Regions from separate parts of the Homo sapiens genome. Here all the other regions are reported to be linked to region 3. Evidence: microRNA targets listed by miRTarBase, many of them from high-throughput screens and not tested one by one. Region 3 holds a microRNA gene; each other region holds the end of a gene's coding sequence. Distances are between the middles of the regions.
Evidence for each region. The annotated mature microRNA hsa-miR-3127-3p reads UCCCCUUCUGCAGGCCUGCUGG and lies in region 3 at 3,437-3,458, opposite strand. An mRNA with a match to its seed (bases 2 to 7 or 8) in the 3' UTR can be bound and repressed. Matches are read on the target gene's strand: a 7mer-m8 pairs with bases 2 to 8, a 7mer-A1 pairs with bases 2 to 7 and ends in A, and an 8mer does both.

Region 1 (6,234 bases), not on the chromosome of region 3:
GGGACAAAAGGAGAGGGTAATTCATAGGGGATGCAGGGCTGGTAGGGTCAACTTGGGAAAAAGGTCAGGGAAAGGTAGATCATTGAGGAGCCTCACCCCCAGCCCCTGCAAGAATACTATGGGATTCCAGGATGTGGAGACTAGGGACTTTGTCTTTTTCTTTTATTTTTTACTTTTCTTTTTTTTTTGAGATGGAGTCTCACATCGTCGCCTGGGCTGGAGTGTAATGGCGCAATCTCAGCTCACTGCAACCTCCCCCTCCCAGGTTCAAGCGATTCTCCTGCCTCAGCCTCCGAGTAGCTGGGATTACAGGTGTCTGCCACCATGTCACACCTGGCCTGACTTTGTCTTTTTCAACTCCATAGTACCCCAGATGAAAATACAGGAAGGGTCAGGGGGCACCTGGAGCAGGCCTGGGACTGCCACTGTGGCCATCAGGGAGACCATATCCAGGGAATGTCACAGCTATATGAGCTTCCCTGCCTCTGGACCCAACTTCTCCTTCCTACCTCCCCGCCCCAGTCCCCATCCCTTGCTGCCTCAGGGGTCCCTCTCCCCTCTTGATCCTGAATTCAGCTCCAGCAGCCTCTCTAGATGCCATTTCAGAAGCCCAGGTTGGGGCCAAGTGCGGTGGCTCACGTCTTTAATCCCAGCACTTTGGGAGGTGGGCGGATCACTTGAGGCCAGGAGTTCGAGACCAGCCTGGCCAACATGGCAAAATCCCATCTCTATTAAAAAGGAAAAAAAGGCCGGGCGCGGTGGCTCACGCCTGTAATTCCAGCACTTTGGGAGGCCGAGGCGGGCGGATCACGAGGTCAAGAGATTGAGACCATCCTGGCTAACACGGTGAAACCCCGTCTTCACTAAAAATACAAAAAATTATCCGGGCGTTGTGGCGGGTGTCTGTAGTCCCAGCTACTCCGGAGGCTGAGGCAGGAGAATGGCGTGAGCCCAGGAGGTGGAGCTTGCAGCGAGCCGAGATCGCGCCACTGCACTCCAGCCTGGGCGACAGAGCGAGACTCCATATTAAAAAAAAAAAAAAAAAAAAAAAAGCAAAAAGTAGCCAGGCATGGTGGCCTGTGCCTGTAATCCCAGCCACTTGGGAGACTGAGGCAGGAGAATCTCGTGAACTCAGGAGGCGTAGGTTGTAGTAAGCCAAGATCGCGCCACTGCACTCCAGCCTGGGCGACAGAGCTCCGAGACTCTGTCTCAAAAAAAAAAAAAAAAAAATCATCCCAGGGTGAGCTTGGCAATTTATCTGTTCGGGGGAGGGTGCTTGCTGGGTGCTGGAACCTCACTGCAAGTGGGGGGCTTCTTCTAGGTCTGACCATCTCCTGGGGCAGTAGGTGTGCACACAGACTGGGCTTAGGGGGAGACTGCTGGAGAACCCACAGCTGTCCTGTTCACCCACAAGAATGCTTTCTTCATGAACCTCCAACTCCAGGGAGCGGAGGATGAGGCACTCTGCTCACCAAACCTGGAGCCTACTGGCCGCGGGAGAGGATTGTCCGCGGGGCCGGGGAATCCCACATAGGGAGGCAGCTGCGCCACCTAGTGGGCTTTTCCATCCTCGCAGGCATCCCTCCCACGCCTCGCCGCCTCCAGCCTGGATATGGCACCGTTTCAGGCAGGACACACACAAAAGCCGCTGTCCGGTAAGGACAGGAGATGCCCTCCTCCTCCCGACGGACCTGACCCAGCTCAGAGAGGGAGAAACTGGGGGGATGTGGGAGGGGGGTGATCGTGCACTGGCGGAAATTGAAGATAGTGGGGAAGCCAGGAGGGGCTTTGGGCCTGCAAACAGCCTCTCCCTGTCATTCTGGATGCCACAGATATGGGGACCATGGCTCAGAGCCCCCAAGGCCCTCCCTTCTGTGCCCGCCCTACCTCCCTCCAGGCCAAGCAAAGCTGGGCTCAGCTCTGCCGATCAAGGGAGAGCTGGCAGAGGCTGGATGGAGCTGCTGGCTTTCCTCTGACGTCACAGCCTGGAAATCCCATTTTAAGCAGGTTCTCTGGGTGTAGGGCACCCACAAGAAAGGGAGGGGGGGCCAGCTGAAGAAGCTAGAGACCTGAGGCTGTTATAGTCAGGTACCTCAGGCCTGGAGGGCTGCCCAGCGATCCCAAGGAGGCCTGGGCATGGGACCCAGCGCTAGCCTGCCCCAGTCCCTACCCAAAGCTAATACCTCTCAAAGGCTCCTGGGGACCCAGGCAGTGATCGAGCACCCTCCACATAGCTCTGGCCATCCACCTATTTCTGACATCTCTTTCCCACTACCCTGGCTTGGAGAGATCTACGGAGGCAGAGGGGAAAGGGGAGAGGGGAGATTGTCCCAGGGAATGAGGGGACAGCAAGGGGTCACCTAGGCCCAGATGTGTGCCACCAGCCAGCCTCTTTCCCAGGAGCCTTTCCACCCGTTCTTCTTGTCACCCTCCATCTCTTCTCTCCTCTGCACCACAGGGGGCAGGCCCTGTGCCCAGAGTTCTAGAAGCCTGAATGTTTCCATAGCAACAAACCAATGAGCTTGGAAATCTGAGCATGTTCCTGTGGACACAGGGAACCCCTGATGTGCACGGAGAGCTTGACAATGCAGAATCTGGATGTGACCTGCCTAGCCACCAGTCACTGTAGATGTGAGCATGCTCCTCCTGAGTGTGAGCCAGTGTGTGTGTTTGTGTGTGTGTGGTATGCAGCAAATGAGATTTAGGTTAAAGAGCGCCTAACCTGGTTTCCTGGGCATATGGTAGCTGTTAGCGTGGGACTGCAGCATCTTACTCTCTGGGGACTTTTCTAGAATGAATCCCTCCCCTAAATTTTACTGTGGTAGCTTCCTCTCCTTTCCGATGGAAAAATGAGCCAAAATTGCTGAGAGGCTGATGGTGAAGGTGATGCCCCTCAGAGGGCTGGTTGACTGGAGGATTCCAAGGAAAGACAAAAGGGACACCTCACATCCCCCACTGTGACCTCACTTCAGGGGGCTCTTGGCTAGCTTGGCTCAAGTGTGGAAGGTGCACATGCCCTGTGATGCCAGGGAAGGAGGAGGAAAGCCTAGTGTAGGGGCGCTTTGCCAAACTTGGGGTCCAGAGCCTGGGTCTGGGTCCTACTCATACCCCCTACCCACCCCATGGTCTGCTTCGTTCATTTTCCTTCCACAGGCTGAGCTATTTCTCTGATCCCCTTTTTCCTCCCTTACGGCTCTTTTCCTTAGTCTCTCCTCCGTACCTGCCTCTGCTCCTCTGCCAGCCTTTCCCTCCCCCTGGGTTCCGGCTTCCCGGGGGCTCATCCCCAGTCAGTTGTGCTTCTTGGCCCCTGGAGCTCTGGCTCTGCGTCCCAGGGCTCGGACCCCATGCCCTGCAGCTCCCTTCTCCTCCTTTCCTCCAACCTAGCCCAGTAGTCAGGGCTGGACCTCTGCCTTTCCTGGTGCCACACAGGCTGTGCCTCTTTGTCTCAGCCCTTGGTTCCCTCTCTGTCCCCAGGGCTGGTTTCTTCACAAGCCCTTGTCCTGTCTTCCCCATCTCTGCTTCTTCGCTCAACCTCTCTGGCTCAACCCCCTTTGGTCTTTCTAGGCACAGTCCCCGAGGCCTGCCCCACAGCTCCATATCCTATCCTCTGTCCCCTGGGGGCCTCACTGGGATCTTTGTCCCCCAGAGCCTACACCTAGCACTTTCTGTTGGATACCAGAAGGTCCACTCAAGACTTGGGGTAAGATTCTGAGGGAAAAGACAGTCCTTGGGGTTGGGGCCCCTGGCCCTTCTTAGGCCTCTGGTTTTTATTTATTATTATTATTTTTTAAATAGAGACATGGCTGGGCGCGGTGTCTCACGCCTGTAATCCCAGCACTTTGGGAGGCCGAGGCGGGCAGATCACTTGAGGTCAGGAGTTCGAGACCAGCCTGGCCAACATGGTGAAACCCAGTCTCTACTAAAAATACAAAAATTAGCTGGGCATGGTGGCGCATGACTGTAATTCCAGCTACTTGGGAGGCTGAGGCATGAGAATCATTTGAACCCAGTAGGCAGAGGTTGCCGTGAGCCAAGATCGCGCCACTGCACTCCAGCCTTGGCAATACTCAGTTTCCCCCCCTAAAAAAAAATACAGATGTGATTTTCGCATGTTGCCCAGGCTGGTCTCAAAATCCTGAGTTCAAGGATCCTCCTGCCTCCACCTCCCAAAGTGCTGGGATTACAGGTGTGAGCCACCACACCCAGCTAAGCCTCTGTGGTTTTTGTTTGTTTTTTGTTTTGTTTGAGACGGAGTCTTATTCTGTCACCAGGCTGGAGTGCAGTGGCACGATCTTGGCTCACTGCAATCTCTGCCTCCCACGTTCAAGCAATTCCCCTGCCTCAGCCTCCCAAGTAGCTGGGACTACAGGCACGCGCCACCATGCCTGGTTAATTTTTGTATTTTTAGTAGAGATGGGGTTTCACCATGTTGGCCAGGATGGTCTTGATCTCCTGACCTCGTGATCTGCCCGCCTCGGCCTCCCAAAGTGCTGGGATTACAGGCATGAGCCACTGCGCCCAGCCTAGGCCTCTGGTTTTATCTTGAGTCCCAAAACCATTTTCCCAGACTGAGCCCCCTCAAGCCCATCTCTTAGCTGGGCACCAGAGCTCCTGTCAGTCACAGGCTGGCCTCCCCACTCCCCCAGCTGAACCCTGCTTCTCACTTGAGGTCCTTCCCACCTGTCAGCTGGTGTGGCAAGAACAAAGCACAGAGGCCAAAATAAATGAGGTGCCAGAGTTTGGTTTATTGGCTCATCCAGTGCCAAAGGTCCAATGGGCACCCTCTTCCCAAGGAACCGGGAGCCCCGCGGCTCCTGCATTTCTCTTTCTCCTTCACGTGTTCCTCCTGGCCCTGACTGAAGCCGTGGCAGAAGCTGGGGCGGGTGTGAGCAGAGGCTGGGTTCTGCCAGGGGTCTTAGGGCCCAGTCTGCTTGGTACAGGATGGGGACCCTGGGCAAGAGGGGATGGACCCCAGGGGCAGAGGAGAGGGGCCCACTCAGCAGGGGCCTGTACCAGACAGAGCAGGGGTGGGCCCTGAGGAGCACGGGAGTCCAGCCCAGGGGCACGGTGGCAATGGGGTGACCTAAAAGGGAGCAAGGTCATAGGAGCAGGTGAGAGGCCCCCCAGATCCCCGTTCTCTCATGGGCTGGGTCCTCTGAGGCTCAGAGCCTAGGATGGAGGGTTGAGCAGGGAAAGGGCCAGATGACTGTGGGGCTCAGGGTGGGAGGAGGCGACTGCTGGAGGGACAGTCCTTGACCCAAACTACCCCGAGCCCTAGACCCAGAAAGACACACTCACACAGCCCTGGACCCCCCTTTTTAATGTGGGAACATGTGGCACTCAGCCCCACCCAATGACCAGGAAAAGAGCCCCCAGCTGCAGCTCTGGCCTGGCCATCCTGGTCGCTGAAGCACAGGCCAATCCCTGTCTTCCATCCACAGCTGCACCTGGAGGCCCCACCCAGGGTCCCCAACGTCCTCCCCGTGTGCTCCCTTTCCCCCATGTGCCTTCAGGCCCGTCCTTGGTCCATCTGGGCTAGGACTTCCCCCTCCCTGCTCCCAAACCAAGGCGAGCAGTGGAAACACGACAGGACCTCTGAGAAGCGGATTGCTATGGGCTTCAGCAAGGCACTGGGTGGGTGGGGCAGGGCGGGGCTGCAGCGGAACAGCGGTGGAGGCCGAGCAGTCCCCACCTCCTTGGGTGGCTCAGTCCTCAGCCTCTGGTCCACCCTCTACCCTCAACCCCCACAGCTGGGCCTCCTTCCTCTTTTCCAAGCCCCTTCCAGAAGAGTGGCCACTGGGCAGGCACCGGAAATGGCCATCTGCGGGGCCCAGGGGCCTGAGACACCTAGGCTACTGGCACAGTGTGGAGCAGGGGCTGGGTCTGAGGCCCCTCCTGAGGCTTCATCCTTGCTCTGCAGCCTGCGGGGGTGGAGGGGCTCAAGCTGAGTCGCCCCCGCCAGAGGTCTTCTTCTTGGGCCGGGTCTTCAGTGTCTTGGAAGCCAGTGGCTGTGGAAAGAAGGAGGAAGATGGGGCTCAGCCTGGAGCCGCCACCCCCTGCCTGTTTCCCCAAGCTCTGGCCAGTGCCCTCACCTCAGCTTTGGGCGCTTTTTTGATGGGTTTGGCCCTCTTGGGAGCTTTGTCTCCCATGTCATCCTCAGAAGCCTCTGTCCGGGAATCTGCCGGGTTTGTGCTGGACCTTAGACTCAGGGCAGGGTCATCTCCTGGGTGCAGG
Region 2 (6,777 bases), 110 Mb from region 3:
TTCACTGACATTGGTAGTGGACACTGTGGTGTGCTGCCCAGATACGCGCGCTCGCTCTCCTCTCACACACACCCCACACCTGAAACACTCATTTCCCCAGCTTCCAGGAATGTTGGTGGCTGATGGCTCCCAACTGACTCCCTCTCCAATATTGTCTTCAGCCTCAGGTTATAAACCTTGTATCCACTAGTCCATGCAGGGTCATAAAGGACCATCACCCTGCCTCAATATGGCCTAACTGCAGGACCATCTCAGCTCTAAAGAATTAGCTGAGGACTTCCCCGACTACATCCCAGCCCAATTTCTTCCTCTTTCCCAGTCTGTCTTCTTTCCAAGATCAGAATATTGATCTTGGAAAAAGCATTCCCATATGAACTTTTCACACCCTAATCTCAATCTTTGAGTCTATTTCCCCAAGGAACCTGACCTGCAACAACATTCTAAGTCCAAAGCCAAGAAAATCACTTGATTTTCACTTGGACAACCCAACTATTTCTGATGATTTTTTTTTTTCTTGCCTGTGCTTCTAATTTGTAGGGCAAGGGAAAAAAGCTGCCTTCAAATTTTTCTGATTCTTAATGTTTTATGAAAACAGAAAACAACCCAATAACAGCTTACCTCATTTGGTAGATCACCCAGGGATATTATTGAAGCTCCCCACCTCTAACCCACCCTGCCCCATCCACGTTAACTTCCATCTCCAAAGTTAATGAATCTTAAAGAAACTGAACTCTGCCGGGCGCGGTGGCTCACGCCTGTAATCCCAGCACATTGGGAGGCTGAGACAGGTGGATCATGAAGAGATCGAGACCACCCTGGCTAACACGGTGAAACCCCATCTCTATTAAAAATACAAAAAATTAGCCGGACCGTGGTGGCAGGCACCTGTAGTCCCAGCTACTCGGGAGGCTGAGCCAGGAGAATGGCGTGAATACGGGAGGCGGAGCTTGCAGTGAGCTGAGATCGTGCCCCGCACTCCAGCCTGGGTGACAGAGCGAATATGCATTCCCAATAACATACCTAAGTGGGACTGGCTTGTCATTATGGTGTTGGTGATACTGCCAGGCTTTATTTTGTTTTAAACAATCTTTCATATTCATGGTGCAGTACTGACATTTTATGGATTCAGTAAGCTATGGACATTTCCATTTCATGTGTATTAGAATTGTGTTGAACTGGTATATCACAGAATGCTCACAACTTTTAATCCATCTTTATTAAAGTGAAACTACTACTTCAATATATGCAGAAAACAACATATTGGATATTTTCACCTCTGGGATAAAGGTTCAAAAGGAAGAGAACGTCCTGTTTTTAAGATTTTATAAAAGAAATCTATCTCTAGTACCAAATACCATATTGAGATTATAATATTCTTGCAGTCTAAATTTAAGCTATTGTTTAAACTTTTGCATTGTAAAAAGAAAAGTTCATGTGTGTGTGTGAGATGTCAAAGTGTATCATAGATAATCCTAAAACAATATAACAATCATTTAACCCAAAGTCAATGCCCTTTAAATGGAATGTATCTTTTTCATTATTTGGTTATGAAATATACAGAAGGTACTGGGGAAGCAACAATGGAAGAGGCAGAAGCATTCTTGGCCCTCAAGGAGCTTACACTCTACAGGGCAATACTACCACTGAATGAGCAATTACAAGTCCAATACAAAAGGAGCTTATATGTAGGAAGCTAACCTCTCAGGCAGGGATGAGATTTAAAACTTTTAATGTCATCCTATGCGTTGTTAAGGAAGCAGGGAAAGCTTGGGAAAGAACTGCATTAAGACATTTGAGCAAGGGTAAAACAGAAGGGGAAAACCTCAGCTCTTGACTTGAAATAGAAAACCTATTCCCTCCCTCTCCCTCTCCCTCCCCCTCCCTCTCCCTCTCCCTCTCCCTCTCCCTCCACGGTCTCCCTCTGATGCCGAGCCAAGGCTGGACGGTACTGCTGCCATCTCGGCTCACTGCAACCTCCCTGCCTGATTCTCCTGCCTCAGCCTGCCGAGTGCCTGCGATTGCAGGCGCGCACCGCCACGCCTGACTGGTTTTCGGTTTTTTTTGGTGGAGACGGGGTTTCGCTGTGTTGGCCGGGCTGGTCTCCAGCTCCTAGCCGCGAGTGATCCGCCAGCCTCGGCCTCCCGAGGTGCCGGGATTGCAGATGGAGTCTCGTTCACTCAGTGCTCAATGGTGCCCAGGCTGGAGTGCAGTGGCGTGATCTCGGCTCGCTGCAACCACCTCCCAGCCGCCTGCCTTGGCCTCCCGGAGAGCCGAGATTGCAGCCTCTGCCTGGCCGCCACCCCGTCTGGGAAGTGAGGAGCGTCTCTGCTTGGCCACCCATCGTCTGGGATGTGAGGAGCCCCTCTGCCTGGCTGCCCAGTCTGGAAAGTGAGGAGCGTCTCTGCCCGGCCGCCATCCCATCTGGGAAGCGAGGAGCGCCTCTTCCCCGCCGCCATCCCATCTAGGAAGTGAGGAGCGTCTCTGCCCGGCCGCCCATCGTCTGAGATGTGGGGAGCACCTCTGCCCCGCCGCCCTGTCTGGGATGTGAGGAGCGCCTCTGCTGGGCCGCAGCCCTGTCTGGGAGGTGGGGAGCGTCTCTGCCCGGCCGCTCCGTCTGAGAAGTGAGGAAACCCTCTGCCTGGCAACCGCCCCGTCTGAGAAGTGAGGAGCCCCTCCGTCCGGCAACCACCCCGTCTGGGAAGTGAGGAGCGTCTCCGCCCAGCAGCCACCCCGTCCGGGAGGGAGGTGGGGGGGGTCAGCCCCCCGCCCGGCCAGCCGCCCCGTCCGGGAGGTGAGGGGCTCCTCTGCCCGGCCGCCCCTACTGGGAAGTGAGGAGCCCCTCTGCCTGGCCAGCCGCCCCGTCCGGGAGGGAGGTGGGGGGATCAGCCCCCCGCCTGGCCAGCCGCCCCATCCGGGAGGTGAGGGGCGCCTCTGCCCGGCCGCCCCTACTGGGAAGTGAGGAGCCCCTCTGCCCGGCCAGCCGCCCCGCCCGGGAGGGAGGTGGGGGGGTCATCCTCCCACCTGGCCAGCTGCCCCATCCGGGAGGGAGGTGGGGGGGTCAGCCCCCCGCCTGGCCAGTCGCCCCGTCCGGGAGGTGAGGGGCGCCTCTGCCCGGCCGCCCCTACTGGAAAGTGAGGAGCCCCTCTGCCCGGCCAGCCGCCCCGTCCGGGAGGGAGGCGGGGGGGGGGGGGGGGGTCGGCCAGCCGCCCGGTCCGGGAGGGAGGTGGGGGGGGTCAGCCCCCCTTCCGGCCGGCCGCCCCGTCCGGGAGGTGAGGGGCGCCTCTGCCCGGCCGCCCCTACTGGGAAGTGAGGACCCCTCTGCCCGGCCAGCCGCCCCGTCCGGGAGGGAGGTGGGGGGGACAGCCCCCCGCCCAGCCAGCCGCCCTATCCAGGAGGTGAGGGGCGCGTCTGCCCGGCCGTCCCTACTGGGAAGTGAGGAGCCCCTCTGCCTGGCCAGCCGCCCCGTCCGGGAGGGTGGTGGGGGGGTCAGCCCCCCGCCCGGCCAGCCGCCCCATCCGGGAGGTGAGGGGCGCTTCTGCCCGGCCGCCCCTACTGGGAAGTGAGGAGCCCCTCTGCCCGGCCACGACCCCGTCTGGGAGGTGTGCCCAGCGGCTCATTGGGGATGGGCCACGATGACAATGGCGGTTTTGTGGAATAGAAAGGCGGGAAGGGTGGGGAAAAAATTGAGAAATCGGATGGTTGCCGGGTCTGTGTGGATAGAAGTAGACATGGGAGACTTTTCATTTTGTTCTGTACTAAGAAAAATTCTTCTGCCTTGGGATCCTGTTGATCTGTGACCTTATCCCCAACCCTGTGCTCTCTGAAACATGTGCTGTGTCCACTCAGGGTTAAATGGATTAAGGGCGGTGCAAGATGTGCTTTGTTAAACAGATGCTTGAAGGCAGCATGCTCGTTAAGAGTCATCACCACTCCCTAATCTTAAGTACCCAGGGACACAAACACTGCGGAAGGCCAAGGCCGCAGGGTCCTCTGCCTAGGAAAACCAGAGACCTTTGTTCACTTGTTTATCTGCTGACCTTCCCTCCACTATTGTCCTATGACCCTGCCAAATCCCCCTCTGCGAGAAACACCCAAGAATGATCAATAAAAAAAAAATAAATTAATTAAAAAAAAAAAAAAAAAAAGAAAACCTATTCAAGATTTCAGGTGCTTTTTTTTTTTTTTTTTTTTTTTTTTTTTGAGATGGAGTCTCGCTCTTGTCCCCCAGGCTGGAGTACAATGGTGCAATCTCAGCTCACTGCAACCTCTGCCTCCCAGGTTCAAGCGATTCTCCTGCCTCAGCCTCCTGAGTAGCTGGGATTACAGGCGCCTGACACCACGCCCGGCTAATTTTTGTATTTTTAGTAGAGATGGGGTTTCACCATGTTGGCCAGGCTGGTCTTGAACTCCTGACCTCAGGTGATCTGCCCGCCTCGGCCTCCCAAAGTGGTGGGATTACAGGCATGAGCCACCGCATCCGGCCAGATTTCAGGTGCTTTTAAAAAGTAACTGAAATTTTATTTTTACTTAATTCCTTTATTTATATATATATATATACCTGAAATTAAGGCAAAAAGCATGATATGAGACCCAAAAAAGCTCATATCCTACTCAACTAAAAGTGTTTAGGACCTAAACAGGGCAAAAGATTTAAATAGCACTAACAGCTCAAGGAATGTATAGGTTAAACCTTTTGTTTTACATCCAGAAAATTAGAAAACTCAGCTAAACATTGTATATATCACAAGGTTTTAAAAATAATTTGTAAGATTTAATCTTACCAAGAAAGCTTACTCATTTAAAGACTTCTTTATACCGGCCCTTCATATCATCAGTGGAAACTGTTTATTAAAAGGGAGGAGTATGGGATACACAAATAGCATAAATCGAAATCTCACACTTAATCCTTTAATGTTAATTGCATTTCAGACTGAGTAAAGTCTGACTAAAAATCACAGCAATGGGACAAAGCACTGCTTTGTTTTAAAACTGCACATGTGCTTTCTCCCCTGAGAACCTTTGGCTTAGACTTTTTGTACAGTAAGACATTTCATTAAATATGGTTAGATTTGCAGTCTAAGACCTTAAGTGACACACTCAATGACAACATTCTTATAAATTATAGCCAATTATAAGTCCTCCTTCTGGTTTCTCTTCTGTGCTTCGTAAATATGTACATCTTTTTCAGGATCGTAGTGAACCTTTCTCACAGTAAATTGCCTCTCCAGCATTGCTAAGAAGTTGTTATCCCGTTCATAGCGAATTCGGCATGCTAAAAGAATCACAGAGTGATTGCTACAGAGATGTTCCAGTGTCTGAAGAAGATCTGTGAATGTTTCTTCTAAATATATGATATCAGCACCAAGTATCAGGTCAAATTCTCCAGGAGAAAAACTCCCCAAATTTTGTCCCCAAGTCAGCTCCTTAACAACAGTTTTAGTTTGGATATGAGGAGGTAAGTTGGCTTGAACGTTTGATTTAAGAAATTCTAATGCTACTTTTCGATCCGTGATAGTCACATGAGCACCTACAATGTGGAACAAAGAAAAAGTGATGTGTACATCAGTACAATTCTGTTAGGTAGAGAGGGGGTCAAGTTAAATGTAGAGTGTCTCTTAAATATTGCATCTGATATGCATAATATCAATCACACCTTTCATGGACAGCTGCAATAGAAAAATGACTCACAGCTCCTTTTGCATTAACTACTGGTAGAAGTGACTCTTGATTTGCCTCTATGACATACCTGCTATTTGCTAAAATTGTGCCTATAAATTGCAGAATTGGCTGGGTGTGGTGGCTCATGCCTTTAATCCCAGCACTTTGGGAGGCCAAAGCGGGTGGATCACCTGAGGTCAGGAGTTGGAGACCAGCCTGGCCAACATGGCCAACTAAAAATACAAAATTAGCCAGGCATGGTGGCGGGCACCTGTAATCCCAGCTACTCGGGAGGCTGAGGCAGGGGAATCACTTAAACCTGGGAGGCAGAGGTTGCAGTGAGCTGAGATCTCGCCACTGCACTCCAGCCTGGGTGACAAGAGCAAAACTCCATCTCAAAAAAAAGTAGAATTAACCAGTGACACGGCTGATGCTTCTGAATTCTGCCAACAGAGCTGGCCCATACTTTATTCATTGGGTCATTATCTTTAAGTCAGTTGGCCGCAGGCTAAAATGGAATCCAAGAATGAAATATCTGGGAGCAGGCCAGGTACAGTGGCTCATGCCTGTAATCCCAGCACTTAGGGAGGCTGAGGTGGGAGAAGCCCTTGAGCCCAGGAGTTCAAGACCAGCCTGGGTAACACAGGGAGACTCCATCTCTACAAATAATTTTTTTTAATTAAGCACAGTGCACACCTGTGGTCTTAACTACTCAGGAGGCGGAGGTGGGATATCATGTGAGTATGGGAGATCGAGGCTGCAGTGAACTGTTATTGTGCCTGGGCAACAGAGCAACACCCAGTCTCAAAAAAAAAAAAAATATCTGGGAGCAGACTATTATTGCAAAGATGACAAGATACCAAAAACAGAGAAAGGCTGTTTTGTAAGGTTACAGTTTAAAAAAGAATCATGGAAGAAATAAATTGGCTACTAAGAAATCCCAGTCCACTTCTCCTTAGGCTGTTATGAAGCAGCCAACTTACATGTTTTACGTATTTCTTGAAAAATTGTAAGCTTAAAAATTACTTAATTTTATTAATGTAGGTTAAAATGCTTGTTCTTAATGCTAAGTTTCTACACACAGTGTAGAAAAACTAAACTGTTTCTTATGGGTTGTTG
Region 3 (6,777 bases):
AGTATCTCTGTCTGTGTGTGTGTCTGGGTGTGTGGTCTCTGGGTGTGTGTGGTCTCTGCATGTGTGTGGTCTCTCTGCGTGTGTGTGGTCTCTCTGCGTGTGGTCTCTGTGTGTGTGTGTGTGTGGTCTCTCTGCATGTGTGTGGTCTCTCTGCGTGTGGTCTCTGTGTGTGGTCTCTGTGTGTGTGGTCTCTCTGTGTGTGTGCTATCTCTGTGTGTGGTCTCTGTGTGTGTGTGGTCTCTCTGTGTGTGTGCTATCTCTGTGTGTGGTCTCTCTCTGTGTGTGGTCTCTGTGTGTGTGTGGTCTCTCTCTGTGTGTGCGGTCTCTCTGCATGTGGTCTCTCACTGTGTGTGTCTCTGCGTGTATCTATGGCTATGTGTATCTGTATGTGTATCTCTCTGTGTGTCTCTGTGTGTATGTGTCTATGAGTGTGTGATCTCAAGCACCAAGAGATCTTTGGGGGCCCCTTCTAGAGCTGAGGCAGCAAAGCTGCCTAGAAATTGGGCCCCAGCCAAGCAGAGCCACTGAGGTCTGGCGGCCCACATTGAGCAGGCGGGGGTCCGGGTCCATGTGGGGAGGTTAATGCAGCTGCAGTGTGCAGGCACAGGCAGCAGGTGGCAGCGTGACCCTCAGCTGTGCCACGTTACCTGTGAGCCAGCAGAGCAGGGAGTTCCGCTTGCCAGGCGGACACCCGACCTGGACTGAAGGCACTGGAGCAAAAGAGAAGGTCAGTGATGGGCGCAGTCAGGAGACAGGACACGGAACCACAGGCACAGGACAGAGGCAGACCTGACGGGGCCAGGCTGCTTTGGGCAGAGATGGGCCCAGTGGAGAAAGGGACATGGCTCTGCTGGGAAGGGTGCTCAGGGCACAGCGGTGAGCCCTGTGCGGAGACAGGCAGAAGCTGGCTGAGTGTGCCCAGTCATCTCCCCTCTCTTCTGGCCACACCAAGTGGGAACAGAGAGACTATGGGTCAACGGACAGAGCCTGGGCCCTAACCGGGCCTCTGAGGCTTCACTGCACAAACAGTGCCTGGGGGAAGCCTCCCGTGCCTGCCCGCCCTTCTGAATGAGATTTCCTCAAACTGAACAGAGAACAGCTGCTCTTGGAGGCACAGGAAGTCATCCCCAGGCCTGAGGCATCTGATAGGGTTAACCTGCTCAGAGCCCCGCTCTGGGGCCCTGTCTGTCCCCTGCCCAGGGAGCCTGCCATGCCCCACTCATCTGGTGGAGGGGCCGAGGACATGGTGGATAAGCCAAGCTGGGTGTCAGTATTCATGGGTGCCCTACCCCCGTTCCCCCTCGGGGTCCTTTTTGTCAAAGGACAGTGAGAGGCACAGCACAGAGGTTCTCTGGGAGCTGCAGCTCGTACCCCACTGGCGTGGCCTGTTCTCCAGCACCAAAGTGGACTTTCTCTCTCTACCCTGCAGCAACCTCGCCCCAGGACCGAAGCCTGGAGAGGAGCGAGGAGATGAGCTGGCGAGACCTGGGCCTGCGGGGCCTTGTCTGTGGGGCTCTGCGGGGAAAGCCTGAGCCACTCAGCACAGGAGAGGGCACTGGGGCGGCCAGAGTGGCGCATCCCCGGACCTTCCATAACACCTCTCGGAGGGTGCCCAGTCTCCCTTCTGTCTGTCCCCAAGGCCCTTTATTCCATCGGAGCTGACCTCTAACCAAAACCCAGTAGCCGCGTCCTCCGAAAAGCCAAACCCATCTGCAGCCTGCCCTGGCAAACAGGCCCTGGCCTGGCTCCTGACCCCAGTCACTTTGGATGCTCAGACTCCCCTCCTGTCCTCAGGAGCAGGGCCCTGGGCCTTCCTCCCCACAGGCCTCCTCTCCAAGCAGGCTGGTCTCCTCACAACCTCTGGACATGCCCTCCGCTGCCTCCAGGCCTTTACTCTAAAATCCCTCACTCCTCTTTTCCCCTCCAGCTTCTGGACCCCATCCAAAGTGGCAGCTCCCTCTGCTCTTCCACACCACCCGCTCCAGGCCCTGGCGGCTCCCGCCTCACCAGCCTCCCTCTGCCCCAGCCAGCTGGCTATGAGCTCTCGGGCCCATGCTCAGTTCTGGTGTCGGTCCATGGCTCCCCAGCTGCAGGGGGGCCAAAGGGCAGCAAAGACCATGCCCAACAACTCACCGGAGGGGACCGAGGTCAGGGCCATAGTCCCATAGTAGGAGAAGGCGCCCGTCTCAAACTTCATGTTCTCCTTCCCTGCCTCCACCTCCACCTTCCCCTGAAAAAACACAGGGCTGGAGTTAGAGACCAAGTGAGGGAGGAAACAAAGGATGAGGCAGGATGGGGAGTGAGGAACAAGGGACAGTGGGGCAGGAGGAAGGGCCGGTACTGGAGCCCTGGAGAGCTCAGGGGCCTGACCTGTGAGATCAAGAGTGGCCTCTCAGGGAGAGGATGGCCACGTGGGGCAGGCGGGGCTCAAGGGCAGGCAGCAGGCTCCCCAGGCAGGGAAGCCATGCACCTCCGCAGCAGGTGGGAGAGAGGGCCTGGGGGTTGCTGCAGTGCCAGGGGGAGCAGGTGGCAGGCCCAGGGCTGAGCGGGCTCACCTGCAGGATGAGGATGAAGTAGTCGGCCGGCTTATTTCGGGTGTACAGGTAATGGCGGGCGTAGTACTTATTGTGCTCGTCAAACTTGAGTTCCTGAATGACATCTGGGTACTTGAGTAGCCGCAGCAGGATCTTCTCTGATATCAGGGAGGGGCTAAACTGAGAGACCTCTGTAGGAGGAGAGAGAAGAGACCTCACACGGGGCTGGCCAGGTGGCCCTAAAGCTCGATCACTGCTGTGCCTCCACCCCAACCACAGCAGCCACGCTGTGCTCAGACGACTCCCGCCCTGCTCGGCCGGCCCTCGTTCTGCACCTCCCTGGGGAGGGAGCACGCTTGGCTTCTGACTGGTTGGATACAAGGCTGCCTGCCTGCCTGGGCTTGAACAGTGGCTCCTGCAAGAACAGCACATGACCTTGGGCAAATTACTTAACCTGCATCTCAGTTTCCTCATCTGTAATATGGGGGTAAAAGCTTCACAGGGTGGTTGTGAGGGTGAATGGGATAGCACATGGACAGCACTTAGTATATATGTGCTGTCCATATATACTAAAATATATAGACTATAATTATTGCATCAGCATCAATATCCCACAGGAAAAATAATGGAGAGGGAATTGCCACCCCTTTAGCAAGTAAGGGGTGGGAAGGAAGATGAATTGGGCCAGGGGAAGAGGGGGACAGAGCGGGCAGAGCAGAACCTGTCACCCAAGTCCCCAGTGGAGCTTTGAATCAGGGCTGAAAAGAGAGAAATGTCTCTGAACTAGAAGTGAATTCCTGCGGGAACCAGCACACGTCTGCAAAGGGGAGAGCTGGAGAGTAAGAGCAGAGCTGGATGCAAGCTCCTCAGAGTGGGTGAGCACACGAGGGGTCCAGCCACACCCAGCAGGCCTGCAGAAGGGGAAGCGTCCCTTCTCCTTCCCATTCCACAAGCCCTGATGGGCCTGGCCAGCCTAGGGGCCCACCTCAGTGGTTATTTTCTTTTTTGTTATTTTTGAGACAGAATCTTGTTCTGTGGCCCAGGCTGAGTGCAGTGGTGCATTCACAACTTACTGCAGCTTCAAACTCCTGGGCTCAAGCGGTCCTCCCACATCAGCCTCCTGAGTAGCTGGGACCACAGACATGCAACTGTCCCACCTCATAGCCTCCCAAGTAGCTGGGACTACAGGAGGGCACCACCATGCCTGGCTTTTGTATTTTTTGTAGAGATGGGGTCTCGCCATGTTGCTCAGGCTGGTCTCGAACTCCTGGGCTCATGCAATCCTCCTGCCTCGGCCTCCCAAAGTGCTGGGATTACAGGTATAAGCCATAGTGCCTAGTCATTATTTCCCAAACTATTAAATATAGTAACTTGGATGCTTCCTAGAAGTTTGCAGTAGCCGCCCATTAATGGCAAATGAATCGCAGGGAGATCCCCAGGGGTGGAGCAGATACCCGGCCCCTTCCAGGGGTGGCTGTGTTGTCTCTGCACCCCTCACCTGCTGCAGCCCTCGTCCTATGGGGGGAAAGCAGCCGGAAACCCAGGACTTCTCCCCCGTGACCGTATTTCCACCAAGACCGGAAGGTCCTCCTCATGCTACCTGTGGCTAGGAAGCGATGAGCGGCCAGGAGGAGCTGCGGGGAGATTTTCACTTTGAGCTCATTGTCCGCATCCTTGAAGGCAGAGAAGTCACGCTTGTTCTTCTCAGACACCCGCTTCCGGCTTCGGTTGTCAGCTGCCGGAAGAAGAGCGTGGAATTGAGAACACAGACCCCTGAGGACTTAGGAAGAGACTGGAACCCGCCCCGCAGCTCCTGCTCTCCAGCCCCTAGTCCCACGCAGGAGCAGCAGGCTCTGGCTGGCAGGGTCCTGGGCTGACGCCGAGGCACAAAGGCCGAGGGTGAAGGCAGCCTCCGGGCACTGCTCTCAGCAACCTGCTCCCTGCTCACCCCGGCCAGTGCAGGGCACCCAGCCACTGGGCCTCTGGATGCTAGGCCTCCTGTGTCCCTGCACTATGGCCCTTCCAGCTAGGGACACCAAGTTTCGATCCAAGCAGGAAAGGGGTCCTGGGCCCTGTGGAAGGCTGGACTCACTGTACATGTCGGACTCGTCCAGGATCTCCGACTTGATGATCTCCTCGATCACGTCCTCCAGGGTGACCAGGCCCAGGACCTCGTAGAAGGGGTCACCCTCACCCTCGTTGTTTACCTTCTGCACGATGGCCAGGTGGGACTTCCCTGTGGGACAATGCAGCAAGTCAGACAAGAGCCCAGAGGCCAGTCATGAGACTCCCTCAACCAAAACATTAACTCTAGACGTAGGGTCATAAGTCACCAGGATGGGGTCATGGTGGTTTTTATCTTTTCCATCTTTCCTGACGTTTCTACTGCAAACAGACATTGCTTTTATGAAAAGGAAAACTAAAAGTAATTTTTAAAAGCATGTCGTTAAGGACCACTTTTTTGTTTTTCTCTGTTTTTGTGGAGGAAGGACAGGGTCTAGCTCTGTTACCCAGGCTGGAGTGCAGTGGCGCAATCATAGCTCACTGCAGCCGCCAACTTCTGGGCTCAAGAGATCCTCCCACCTCAGCCTCCCGAGTAGCTGAGACCACAGGTGTGCTCCACCATGCCTGGCTAACTCTTTTATTTTTTGTAGAGATGGATCTCGCTATGTTGCTCAAGCTGGTCTCAAACTCCTGGGCTCAAGCAGTCCTCCCATCTCAGCCTCCCAAAGTGCTGGGAATACAGGAATGAGCCACCACGCCAGGCCAGGACTACTTGTTTAAATCGGATAAAAATGGCAATGCTGGGAGCAATGGCTCACATCTGTAATCCCAGCACCTTGGACGGGCTGAAGCGGGCAGATTGCTTGAGGCCAGGAGTTTGAGACCAGCCTGGCCAACACGGTAAAACCCCATCTCTACTAAAAATACAAAAATCAGCTAGGTGTGGTAGTACACACCTGTAGTCCCAGCTACTCGGAAGGCTGAGGCAGGAGAATTGCTTGAACCCGGGAGGCAGAGGTTGCAGTGAGCCGAGATCACGCCACTGCACTCCAGCCTGGGCAACAGAGCAAGACTCTGTCTCAAAAAAAAAAAAAAAAAAAAAAAAAAAAAAAGACCCTGTCTGGTATCACTTATCAGGGGCTTCTGGAACTCTTGGGGAGGGGAAAGACCCAAACTGACAAGGGCACAGAGAGGCCGAGCACTGTGATTAGGTGGGGCAGAGACTACAATTAGAGAGGGGCCACCCCCTCAACCCAAAGTGAGGGAAGGAGGCTGGCATGGGGCAGGACCCTCCACAGAAACCCTGTGGGGTGGTGGGTCTTCCCAGACCCCTTTTTGAAGGCCACACCCTGTTCTTATGGCCCCAGCCCCATGAGTGGCAAGAGGGTCCAGCCAAGAAGGGCTAGGTCCACAGTCTAGGTGGAATGAGTCCTGTGTGCCATACCCCACTCGCAGGAACACAGGTTTGGAGCAGCCTAGGAAGAAAGGCCCCCGGAAATCTGGGAAGGTCAAGTCAGGGTCTTCTGCATGGCTTCCCCTTCACAATCCAAGGGCCTCGCTCTAGGGACTAAAGAACTCATCCTAAATACCCTCGGTGGAGGATGTTTTCCAGGTCTTTAAGGCCACAGAAAATCCCCCAGCCCAAGATGGGCTGTTAAGAACTTCTAAGGGCCTCTTAGGGAGAGCAGAGAGAATGTGAGGTCTCATGACTAAAGTAAAAATTCTCACAATACACCCCATGTGATGGGGGGGGGGGTACTGCATTGTGAAAGTTTTTCACACACATGCCAGGGGCTATGATATATGTATTTCCCACTACAGGTTCTGGTCAAAAAACATTTAGCGTCTTGCTAGACAAAGCCATGGCTGGACTCGATTGAAAATACCCCAGTATCTTCCTAGAGATGAGCCAACAAGTTCAAGAGATCTGTGAGGCCCTCCAGCAGGGCGGCAGCGGGCCAGGCCGGGACCCTGGGGTCCGCCCCCAGGCCTCTGTGCCTGCTGGAGGCTGTCCATACAGGAGTGCCCTCCAGAAAGACAGTGCCTGGAAGGGCCTGGGCATCTAGCTAAACCATGTCACCACATGGGGATGGGAATTAAAGCAAGGCAGCTTTGACAGGCTGAGTATCCCTTATTCCTCACTGGGGATCAGAAGTGTTTCAGATTTCAGATTTTTTTGGATTTTGGAATATTTGCAGAATACACGCCATTGGGCATCCCAAATCTGAAAATCTGAACT

Region 1: the mRNA of REEP2 is a reported target of hsa-miR-3127-3p. Seed matches in the 3' UTR shown: 7mer-m8 at 5,776-5,782.
Region 2: miRTarBase lists METTL21A as a target of hsa-miR-3127-3p. The part of its 3' UTR that is shown has no 7-base or 8-base seed match.

What each region holds. Positions count from the first base shown.
Region 1 is chr5:138,445,457-138,451,690 of GRCh38, reverse strand. REEP2 (receptor accessory protein 2) reads right to left here. Exons shown (of 8, transcript NM_001271803.2): 7 at 6,093-6,223; 8 at 4,726-6,008. The coding sequence ends at 5,940. Among named protein-coding and RNA genes, the nearest start is that of REEP2, 9.5 kb to the right of the region's middle. RefSeq lists enhancers at 1,626-1,715, 1,786-1,845.
Region 2 is chr2:207,607,917-207,614,693 of GRCh38, forward strand. It overlaps METTL21A (methyltransferase 21A, HSPA lysine), which reads right to left. Exons shown (of 4, transcript NM_001127395.5): 4 at 4,823-5,527. The coding sequence ends at 5,130. Among named protein-coding and RNA genes, the nearest start is that of METTL21A, 14 kb to the right of the region's middle.
Region 3 is chr2:96,795,005-96,801,781 of GRCh38, reverse strand. It overlaps MIR3127 (microRNA 3127), which reads right to left and starts at 3,504; the gene lies at 3,429-3,504. CNNM4 (cyclin and CBS domain divalent metal cation transport mediator 4) reads right to left here. Exons shown (of 7, transcript NM_020184.4): 2 at 4,627-4,770; 3 at 4,135-4,269; 4 at 2,556-2,725; 5 at 2,134-2,230. RefSeq lists enhancers at 422-501, 742-1,071.